2 separate regions of the Homo sapiens genome follow, and region 1 is linked to region 2. The links come from fine-mapping of genetic effects on gene expression. A gene starts in region 2. The other region holds a variant in brackets. All regions are shown on one strand. Distances are between the middles of the regions. Region 1 overlaps CTDSPL (CTD small phosphatase like). Region 2 holds the start of MYD88 (MYD88 innate immune signal transduction adaptor).

What was found. PIP is the estimated chance that this variant, and not a neighbour inherited with it, causes the effect.
Region 1: its variant is fine-mapped to the expression of MYD88 in whole blood (TOPMed, PIP above 0.99).

The regions. Positions count from the first base shown.
Region 1 is chr3:37,974,423-37,979,794 of GRCh38, reverse strand. It overlaps CTDSPL (CTD small phosphatase like), which reads right to left. Exons shown (of 8, transcript NM_001008392.2): 7 at 3,901-4,086. Among named protein-coding and RNA genes, the nearest start is that of MIR26A1, 7.7 kb to the right of the region's middle. The variant G/A (reference allele first, on the strand shown) is at 2,585.
Region 2 is chr3:38,136,544-38,141,912 of GRCh38, reverse strand. MYD88 (MYD88 innate immune signal transduction adaptor) reads right to left here and starts at 3,252. Exons shown (of 5, transcript NM_002468.5): 1 at 2,885-3,252; 2 at 1,915-2,049; 3 at 1,345-1,525; 4 at 1,065-1,156; 5 at 1-781. The coding sequence starts at 3,212. The coding sequence ends at 627. It overlaps ACAA1 (acetyl-CoA acyltransferase 1), which reads left to right and starts at 4,786. Exons shown (of 12, transcript NM_001607.4): 1 at 4,786-5,048; 2 at 5,228-5,321. The coding sequence starts at 4,878. RefSeq lists enhancers at 2,529-2,658, 3,159-3,568, 2,728-3,671.

The DNA.
Region 1 (5,372 bases), 160 kb after region 2:
CACAATTACTTCAAGTGATTTGTGTGTGTGTGTGTGACACAGCGTCACACTCTGTCACCCAGGCTTGAGTGCAGTGGCAATCATAGCTCTGTAGCCTTGACCTCCTGGGCTCAAGTGATCCTTCCACCTCAGCCTCCCAAGTAGCTGGGACTATAGGCATGTGGCACCACGCTTGGCTAATTTTTTTTCTTTTCTTTTTTTGAGATGGAGTTTTGCTCTTGTTGCCCAGGCTGGAGTGCAATGGTGTGATCTTAGCTCACTGCAACCTCCAACTCCTGGGTTCTCCTGCCTCAGCCTCCTGAGTAGCTGGGATTACAGGCACCTGCCGCCATGCCCAGCTAGTTTTTGTATTTTAGTAGAGACAGGGTTTCACCATGTTGGTCAGGCTGGTCTTGAAATCCTGACCTCAGGTGATCCACCCACCTCGGCCTCCCAAAGTGCTAGGATTACAGGCATGAGCCACCACCCCAGCCTTTTTTTTTTCTTTTTTTTTTAGTAGCGACAGGATCTTGCTTTGTTGTCCAGGCTGGTTTCAAACTCCTAAGCTCAAGTAATCCTCCCTCCTCAGCCTCCCAAAGTGCTGGGATTGCAAGCAGCCAGGTAAGCCACCAAGCCTGGCATTCAAGTGATTTTAAAACATGGTGTTATAACTGTACATCTCTCTAAAAATTCCTAAACTGCATAGAGTTGTCTTATTATTAGCCATAATTTAGTACCGCTACTGAAATTATTAAACATACACTACAGATCAATTATATAATTATGTTAATATCTTTAGAAATCAAGAGTTGCAGCATAAGAGAAAGGGATACAAAAACAAAACAAGCAAAGAAGTTACATAAAAACGTAACGTTGTATTGGAAAAACCAGTATGAACTTATGATTTAGTTTTCTTTCTAAAAATATGTCATTTTTAGCTCTGCCCTGTAGTATGGGCTAGAAGTAAAGTATATCCCATTAGCAATGAAAATCCACCTAAACTGTGGTCTCTAAATACCACTTCCACTAATAGGGACCAGGCACCATACAAAAATGGCTGGTTCCAGGGCTGAGGCAAGAAATGTTCATCATGAGCCTGGAACATCTTGTTGTTTAAGAAAGTAAGGAAGCTACAGGTTGAGCATCCCTAATCTGAAAAATCTGAGTCCCGAAATGCCTCAAAATCCAAAATTTTTTGAGCAATGGCACCACAAGTGGAAAATTCTACACTTGACCTCGTGTGCCAGGTGGTAGTGAAAACACAGGCACATGATACACAGTTTATTTAGTGTCCCCAAATTATAAAAAATATTGTATAAAATTACCTTTAGGCTATGTGTATAAGCTGTACATAAAACAGAAATGAATTTCATGTTTAGACTTGGTTCCATCCCCAAGATATCCAATTATGTATATGCAAATATTCCAAAATCCTAAAAAATCCAAAATCCAAGACACTTCTGGTACCAAGCATTTTAGATAAAGAATATTCAACCTATATCAAAGACTTGTTATTAGTGTCCATAGCCAAAGGTGAAAATTAGAGCATGCAAAAGAATAATAAATGGACTGAAACTACAACAAATCCATGAGTTCATAATGATACTAAAAAAAAATTATTGGCTACTTTTGGAGGCCGCTAGAACACCAACTCATTAGTCTGAAAATAGAAATTGCCATTTTGCAATTCCTCATGAAATAGTGGGTGTAGACAATGATCACCAACAACTGCTAAAATTATGAGGTGAAAGGTTCATGGGAGAATTTTATAATAGATGGATCAGGCTAACACCACCTGAACCCAATGATGAATTTTAAATCTTTAAAAGTGGGCTAACCTGACATTTTATGCCTCCTTGATATGATATCTTCATAAGCGTATAATACCCATGATGTATTATTTTTTTCTTCTTTTTTTTGGGATAGGGTCTTGCTCTGTCACTCAGGCTGAAGTGCAGTGGCATGAACATGGCTCACTGCAGCCTCGACCTCCTGGGCTCAAGAGATCCTCCCACCTCAGCCTCCCAAGTAGCTGGAACGACAGTGGAACCACAGGTGTCTGCCACCCCGTCTGGCTAATTTTTTTTTTTTTAAGAGATGGGGTCTTGCCATGTTGCCCAGGCTGGTCTCAAACTCTTGGGCTCAAGTGATCACCTGCCTGGGCCTCCCAAAGTGCTGGGATTATAGGTGTGAGCCATTGCATCTGGCCTCTATGATATATTCTTGCAAAAAAAAAAAAAATCGAATCTAATCAAGCAGTAGAGCTCTAATTACTTGTTTAGAGGATATAAGGTGGCTATAAGAACATATTAAACATCATCACAAGACAGCAGCTGGACAAATCCAGAATGTAGGAGATTTCTACAAGACAAAACACCAGGGCTTCTTCAACAAATAAATGGCATAAAAGAGAAAAGGGGAGGAAAGGGAGACGTGTTAAGATTGCAAAAGAATGAAGAGACATAGTAACCAAAGCAATGCATGGATCTTTTTGGATCCCGATTGAAATACTCCAAATGCACAACACTTCGAGATGATAGGGACAATATGAACACAGTCTGGATATTAGACAATGTAAGAAACTGTTACTTTGTCAGATCTGACC[G/A]TGACTTGTGATTATATTAAAAAGCAATCCTTATCTGTTAGAGACACGTTACCAAATATATTATGTTGAATTTGATTTACTCAGTAAAATGAACACATTTACATAGAAATACATTTGGAGTATTTATTCAAATAATGATTCCACACTAGCCAAATTAATTGAGTTTGAATTTTTTTTGGTTATAAGCGAGACTGCAGAGTTCTGGATTCAAGGAAAGGACTTTGCAGGCTTTTGTAGAATCTGAGAAGCCTGTGCTTGAGAGGAAGCATCCTCTCCAGGGAAAAATGCCTGGTCTAGGGGCCTGATGTGGCAGAGACTGAGGGGTCAGCAGTCACCAGAGGCCCTGGTTGGCCTCTTTTCCCCTGGAAGTGTCAGGCAGCAGGCAGGAAGGCAGTCCTTCTTGCCCTGAGAGTTGTGCTGCACCCAGTGAGTAGGCACCGAGAGCTGCCATGGTCCAGGGAGCTTTATGAATGAAATGTTCCCAATGGGTGCTTTTTAGACATCATGATGAGGTAGCAAAGCTTGGCAGTCTTATTTGAAGACCTTATTGAAGTGTTTTATTCATTTTTTTTTTTTTTTTGAGACGGAGTCTCCATCTGTCGCCAGGCTGGAGTGAAGTGGTGGGATCTCAGCTCACTGCAACCTCCGCCTCCCGGGTTCAAGTGATTGCCCTGCCTCAGCCTCCCGAGTAGCTGAGACTACAGGTGCGTGCCACCAACGCCTGGCTAATTTTTTGTATTTAGTAGAGACAGGGTTTTACCATGTTGGCCAGGATGGTCTCGATCTCCTGACCTTGTGATCTGCCTCGGCCTCCCAAAGGGTTGGGATTACAGGTGTGAGCCACCACACCTGGCCTATTCATTCTTAAGAAATACTTCTGTTAAAGAGATCAACCAGGCCTCCTTAGTCTACAGGGGTCATGAAGTCCTACGCAGTAGCTGGCTCCAGGAGGTTACTGCCAGCAGAACCCTTGTCAATAACAATACTAAAAATGTCAATAAGACGATACAGGCTTATAGAGCATTTACCAGTCTCAAGCACTATTCTAAGTGCTTTTTATATATTGCCACACTGCAACCTCCAATGATCCTATGAGATCAGCATTCCTATAATTCCCATTTGACAGATGAGGCAACCGAGGCTCAGTGAGGTTAAATAACTTGGTCAATGACACGCAACTGCTAAATGGCAGAGCTGGGATTTCATTAGGAAAAGGCCCAGAGACCTTCTTGTGTAGGTGCTCAAAAGTGGTACCTGCCTGGCAAGACAGAGGGCTCAGATGGAGCACGACATTTTCTTTCTTTGGGGCCACTTACTGCATTCTCAGGATGGAAGATGTATGAGGCAGGGGAATTGTCAACAATGATCACTTTGCTCAGCTCCCGCCCAAGGCGACTCAGGTCCTTCACGTAGTTCCCACGATGAAAAACACATGATTCTCTGAAGAGCCGGGCCCGGAACACACCCCAGCGGTCTAGGAGGTCAGCCACAGGGTCTGCATACTGGAAAAGACGTGTCACAATGAAGGCTGGGTGTTTAAAAGAGCCCCCCAAACCCTGAACTACAGCAGCAAGATCCAGATTACGTTTTTTAAAAATGGATTTAATAATTAGATGTGTCTTAGGATCCTGGTTATTTTCCTCTCCGTGTACATAAGATGGCACTGGATTCTTCCATTTCTCTCACATCCAACCATCAGGAATTGTCAGTTTCATCTCCAAAGATAGCCTGACTCCATTTGCATCTATTTATATTGCCACCACCCTTAGCCTGGGCCTCGAATCTCTGGCCTGGGATGGCTGTGTGAGCCTCGTGAAAAACCTGTCTTTCCCACGGGGCCTCCTTTCTAGCCCATTCACCTAGAAGCTGTCAGAGTGGCCACTGGAAAACATATGTGCCATCATGTCACTCCTCTGCTGAAAACTCTCCACTGTCTACACACCGCACTTGGAGTAAGGCCCACGTTCCTCACTGCTGCGTCCCACATGGCACAGCTGAATGAGCTCCATCTGGAGCCCCTGGAGCCACACTGGCTTTGAGTATGGTCAGGACCTTTGTACCAGTGTTCCCTCTGCATGCATTCTCTCCCCAGCTCTTTGCAGAACATCTGTCTCCTGGTTTTTCAGGTCTTGACTTCCTCTCCCATCCACCTAGAGCCACATCTATCTTCCTTTCTGGGTTGTTTCCCTCACAGAGTGGAGTACTATGTGGGATTGCTTGATTTCCTCTCTCCTTGTCAGGGCCCAGGCCTGAAACATCCCCACCACCACATCCCTAGCACCTCCCAGAGTATCTACCACAAGAGGGGCTCAGTAAACATGAATTTCACCACTGAATGAATGAGCTGGCTCCAATGTGTCTTGAATGGCATGACACTGCCCCCTAGAGGTCCTCTGGGCACTTGGGCCAGACCAGCCCCTGAGTGACAGGATGGTGCCCAGCCGTCCACTCCCATAGATGCCCATCCACTTCCTTGAAGCCCAGGAGCTGGATGGGAGTTTGAGCCCAGCTCACAGTTGCGGATCATCCTGCCTGGCCCTCTCTCATGACCTAGGAAATTTCCCCCAAAGCAGGCTTGGAGAAAGAAATAAAGGGGTTTCTGAGAGAAAATCCTCATAACTGAAGATACCTAAAAGAGTGGGCCATACTGAGTGGCTAGGCCTGGAAGAAACAGGAGCAGTTGCCAAGCCTGACACGAGGCCAGGCCCCTGCACCAAGACCAAGTAAGGGGTACAACCAGGCATCAGCGGGACCCAGTGACTCTGCCAGGGAGGCAGAGAGCACCTGT
Region 2 (5,369 bases):
TTAGGAAATAAGGCTCAAGGTGGGGTCTCCTTGGGCTGGGCCAAACTGCTTCCCCACCTGCCCTGTGGGGAAGGAGGAAGTGGAATGGGCGGTGTGCAGAGGCACTGAAGCATCAGTAGGCATCACTGTGGAAGAAGCTGCCCCAGCAGTGTCGTGGTCACAGCAGTGGCCAGCATGTAGTCCAGCAACAGCCAGCTCTCCCGCAGCCAAGCCTGGTCTCCCCCAGGAGACCCAGAGCTATGCTTCACCATTTCCTACAGGGATTCAAACACAGCTACTCTCTGTTCTCCCCATCCCACTCCTCAAGTGAGGAAACTGAGGGTGAAGATGTGTGAATGGCTCAGAGCTGAGCTGGCTCTGCTGGTCCTTCTTAGTCTCAGCTGGTCCTGTTCTATAGTGTCCTGGCTGATAATCCAGCAAGTGGACATGCCACTCACAGCCACTGGTTCCATGCAGGACATGAAATGTGATGTCCAGCTGCTGCAGACGTGTCTGTGAAGTTGGCATCTCCAGGAATTGAGAGGTAAGTAGAGCACAGATTCCTCCTACAACGAAAGGAGGAGGCAGGGCAGAAGTACATGGACAGGCAGACAGATACACACACACCCAGGGCCTCAGAACAGTCTTCAGGGCAGGGACAAGGCCTTGGCAAGGCGAGTCCAGAACCAAGATTTGGTGCAGGGGTTGGTGTAGTCGCAGACAGTGATGAACCTCAGGATGCTGGGGAACTCTTTCTTCATTGCCTTGTACTTGATGGGGATCAGTCGCTTCTGATGGGCACCTGCAAGCCAAGGGGTGCCATGCTGGCATCAGGCCCTTGCCCCATGGTGGGACAAGCCCAGTCTTCAACCCCAGGGTTAACAACAGCCATCCCCCATCTAAGTACCCCTGGCACACATTCACTCACACAAAAAGGCACACACATGCACACATGCTCAGGTGTGCAGAGATCTTCAGCAGTTCTTTGGTACTGCATCCACAGTCCTTGGGGAGGGAAGGCTGACAATCCAGAGGCCCCACCTACACATTCCCTCATTCTCTTGCCAGAGCAGGGTTGAGCTTACCTGGAGAGAGGCTGAGTGCAAATTTGGTCTGGAAGTCACATTCCTTGCTCTGCAGGTAATCATCAGAGACAACCACCACCATCCGGCGGCACCTAGGGGAGAGTGGGCAGGCTGCAGGTCCTGTGGCAACTTAGTTCAGCATATCCCCTGGGAATAGCTTCAGGAAGGGCCCACTGTGCCCAGGCTGGACAGTGCACAGCTAGGAGGAGATGCCCAGTATCTGGACCCCAGGGCAGGGCTTCATGCATCCACGCACCCACCCCGTGGCCTTCTAGCCAACCTCTTTTCGATGAGCTCACTAGCAATAGACCAGACACAGGTGCCAGGCAGGACATCGCGGTCAGACACACACAACTTCAGTCGATAGTTTGTCTGTTCCAGTTGCCGGATCATCTCCTGCACAAACTGGATGTCGCTGGGGCAATAGCAGATGAAGGCATCGAAACGCTCAGGCATATGCCCTGGGTGCAGAGCACAAGGGTGGTGGTCAGAGCTCCATGGGAAGGCTTGGGAGGGATCCAGCCAAGAGTCCCCTGCCTAGGCAACCCTGGGCCCTGCACCCTTCCCAAGATGATACTCCTCAGAGAAAGTGCCCTTTCCAGGAGAGGAAAGATGAGTACCTCAGGGGCTAAGCTCTGGATTAACCACGAGACAGACATTATTTCATGAGCATCTCACAGCAATCCAGAGGTAGGACTATTATCTCCATTTCTTAGGTGAGGAAACTGAGGCTCAGAAAGATTAAGTGACTTGCCCAAGGTCTCACAGCCCATCTGCTTCAAACACCCATGCTCTTAACACCACAATGTCCTATTCCACCTGTCCCATGGGAACAGTATTGGACCCTTACCCAGGGGGTCATCAAGTGTGGTGATGCCCGCCAGCTCTGCTGTCCGTGGGACACTGCTGTCTACAGCGGCCACCTGTAAAGGCTTCTCAGCCTCCTCCTGCTGCTGCTTCAAGATATACTTTTGGCAATCCTCCTCTGTGGGGAAGAGACAGAGTAAAGCAGCCTCCCTGGGAGTGCCTACCTCTTTACCCACAGTCAGGATCCAGCCGCTGTCCCACCTCCTCTGGCTGGGTTGTTCTAGAGGGCTTCCCCAGTTCACTGGTGCCACGCGAAGCTCAACGGCTCTGAGAAGTTGAGCTCCCACTGGCTCTAACTGACCCAAAGGGATGTCAGTGGTGTTCTGGCTTTCTGGAAGGCCATCAAAGTCAGGTTTGTATCTCTGTCCCTTCCTAGGGATCCTAAGAATGGTACCAAGGTAGGTCTGCTTCTTCTGGGATCCAGGGCAGATGTGAGCAAGGGGCTGGGCATGCCAGAAAGGCTCAGGAGACCCACTGGTTATGGTGCAGTGATTCCAACTCAGCAAGGTGTGCCTGTCTGTGGGCGGCTGTATCCAACGCCTATGCATGTATATTATGTAAGTGCCAGTGAGTAGAAAGAAGGGCTGCATTTCCCCAGGACTTGAGGTTTCTAAGACAGTCCACTGTCAATCGCCCCACCTGTCCTGTTGCTCTACTTGAAACAGCCCAGATGCCCCCACAGAAGCCTGATTCTGACTCCTGGCCCTACCTGAAAGCCTCTGCCTAAGCTGCTTCCTTCCCATCTCCGCCTATCCGGACCTTTCTCCAGTCCTTCTTAATAACCGCGACCGGTTATTAAGAAGGAACGGGACCCGCATGGTTCTCCCTCTGCAGGCTTCTTCGGGCCCCCGAGGCAGGAAATGGGGTCTCTCCATGGGAGACAGGATGCTGAGGCCGCGGAAAGTCAGCCTCCTCACCCCCCAGGTACGAGGCCAGGAAGGGGACGTCCTCACCAATGCTGGGTCCCAGCTCCAGCAGCACGTCGTCGCGGCCCAGCTTGGTAAGCAGCTCGAGCAGTCGGCCTACAGAGGCGCCAGGGCGTCCCTGCCAGGCGTCCAGCAGCCTGCCAGTGGGGTCCGCTTGTGTCTCCAGTTGCCGGATCTCCAAGTACTCAAAGTCCATCTCCTCCGCCAGCGCGGTCCAGTCGGCCGCCACCTGTGTCCGCACGTTCAAGAACAGAGACAGGCGGCGCCGCACTCGCATGTTGAGAGCAGCCAGGGGAAGGGAGGATGTGGAGGAGACCGGGGCCGCAGACCCCGCGCCGGGACCTCCTGCAGCCATGGCGGGCGGTCCTGGAGCCTCAGCGCGGTCGGGTCGCATTGTCTGCCAGCGCTTCCTCTTTCTCCTGCGGCACCCGCCCCGCCCCGCCGGCTTTCGCTTTCCGAGAAGCGCCGCCCTGCCCTACAATCTGGAGCCCCGAGCAAAAGTGCGGAGGCGGGGGTGCCCACCTCTACCCTTGAGGTCTCGAGGCGGGTGATGTGGGGGGCGTAAGAAGTAGGAATCTGCCTTTTGAGATCTGGAGAGGTCCACGGCACCGCCCTCGAGGGTCTGGTGATGGTGCTAGTAGGTTGGCGGCGGAGTGAGGACGACCCTCCTTCGGGGGTTGTAGGAAACGGGCCTTGCTTTTTGGGATCTGGTGGAGCCACAGTTCTTCCACGGAGGAATCTGAGGGGTTCATACGGTCCTGCCCTCGAGGATGGCGAGGAGGGGACAAGTGGGAAGGCACCAGCTCTGCCCTCCACTGTCTCTGGGGAACACGCAATCCTGCCAGTAGGGGTATGGGAAGACCCCTGCTGTGCTCCCCGAGGTGGGAGTGGGAAACGGACAGCTGCCTTCTGGAGCCTGAGGCATGCCGTGGCCCTGCCCTCGAAATGGTTGGGGACGTCATGACACTAGGTTGGGGAGCACAAGGCACCCTGTCCTTTGGTGTCTGTGGAAAGCCCAGCACTACTCTCCAGGGTCTCAGGTGAAGACATGGCCCTGCTATTGGGAGTCAAGGGGGCACGTGGCCTTGCCCTTTAGGTTTAGGGACACAGTCCTGACCTGGGGAGCCCTGGTTCATTCATTTACTCATTCGACAAGTACTTATTGATCATCTACTAAGTGTCAAGGGTGTCGCAGGCTCCCCGGATACATGGTACCTCTCTGCCTTGGTGGAGACCCCAGCCTAGCACGGGAAATGGGCACTAATAAAATCATTCCAATTGGGTGTAAAACTGGTAAAAGTGTGAAATGTTCATTCTCCAGTTAGAGAGCTTGTCACACCCCGCATGTCTGTAAAATCTGTTCTCCCGGCCAGCCCGGAAGCCCAAATTCCCTGTCTTCTCGAAAGAATGGGAAAGCCCAACCACGTCGGAGCAGGACTCGGGCGTCTCGGAAGTATTTAGGTCCCCCAGCTCGGGTACTGGGACCGGAGGGATAGCAGAGCCTCCTAGGAAGTGGGTAGAGGAATTAGAGCCTCGGCTTCCATCTCCAGCCCCCAAGCAGTAAGCGGTCCTGGCTGCCCAGCCTTCCGTTTGGCTGCGGGCAGGAGACAGGGATTTGGGGGTCAGGTCTCGGGTTTGGCTACAAAAGGTGGAAAGACTTCCGGTCTGCATTTCTGGGCGGGGATTCGTAAAGATACACCTTCTGGTTGGCTGCGGTAGGCCAAGGTAGGCGGGGCATTGAGTGGAAAGCTCGGCTGGGCGGTGCCTGTGGGCCCTCCTATAGAGGGCTTGGTAGGCGGTGGCGGGGAGGGGCGGGTTCCCAGGCCGACTCTCCTTGTGGTTGGCTGAGGCTGGAGGTGGACGGGACTTTTGGAGGGTCGCTCGCGTCTGTTCGCAGAGCTGTGGGCGGAGTTGAGGCCTTGGAGGCTGAGATGTGGTTCTGCGCGTGTGCGGACGGCTGTCTGTTAACTCCGCGGTCAGTTCCCGGACTGGTGGCTGGTCTGCAGGGTTGACCTGCGCAATGCAGAGGCTGCAGGTAGTGCTGGGCCACCTGAGGGGTCCGGCCGATTCCGGCTGGATGCCGCAGGCCGCGCCTTGCCTGAGCGGTGCCCCGCAGGCCTCGGCCGCGGACGTGGTGGTGGTGCACGGGCGGCGCACGGCCATCTGCCGGGCGGGCCGCGGCGGCTTCAAGGTGAGGCCCGAGGGTCTGGGCGCCGAGTGTGGGAAGACGCCGGCGCGGGCTGGGGTCCGGTTCGTATGTTTGGTTATCCTGGACGCCGGAGGCAGCTCCGCACCCAGCTGTGGTCGCTTTGTCTCCCTGGGGTGGGCATGGGGGAGTGGGGGTCACTGCGGCTGCTCTTTCTGCTGCAGGACACCACCCCCGACGAGCTTCTCTCGGCAGTCATGACCGCGGTTCTCAAGGACGTGAATCTGAGGCCGGAACAGCTGGGGGACATCTGTGTCGGTGAGCGAACCACTCAGGCCCTGCGCTGGGCCTTCCCCGTTCTTCCGT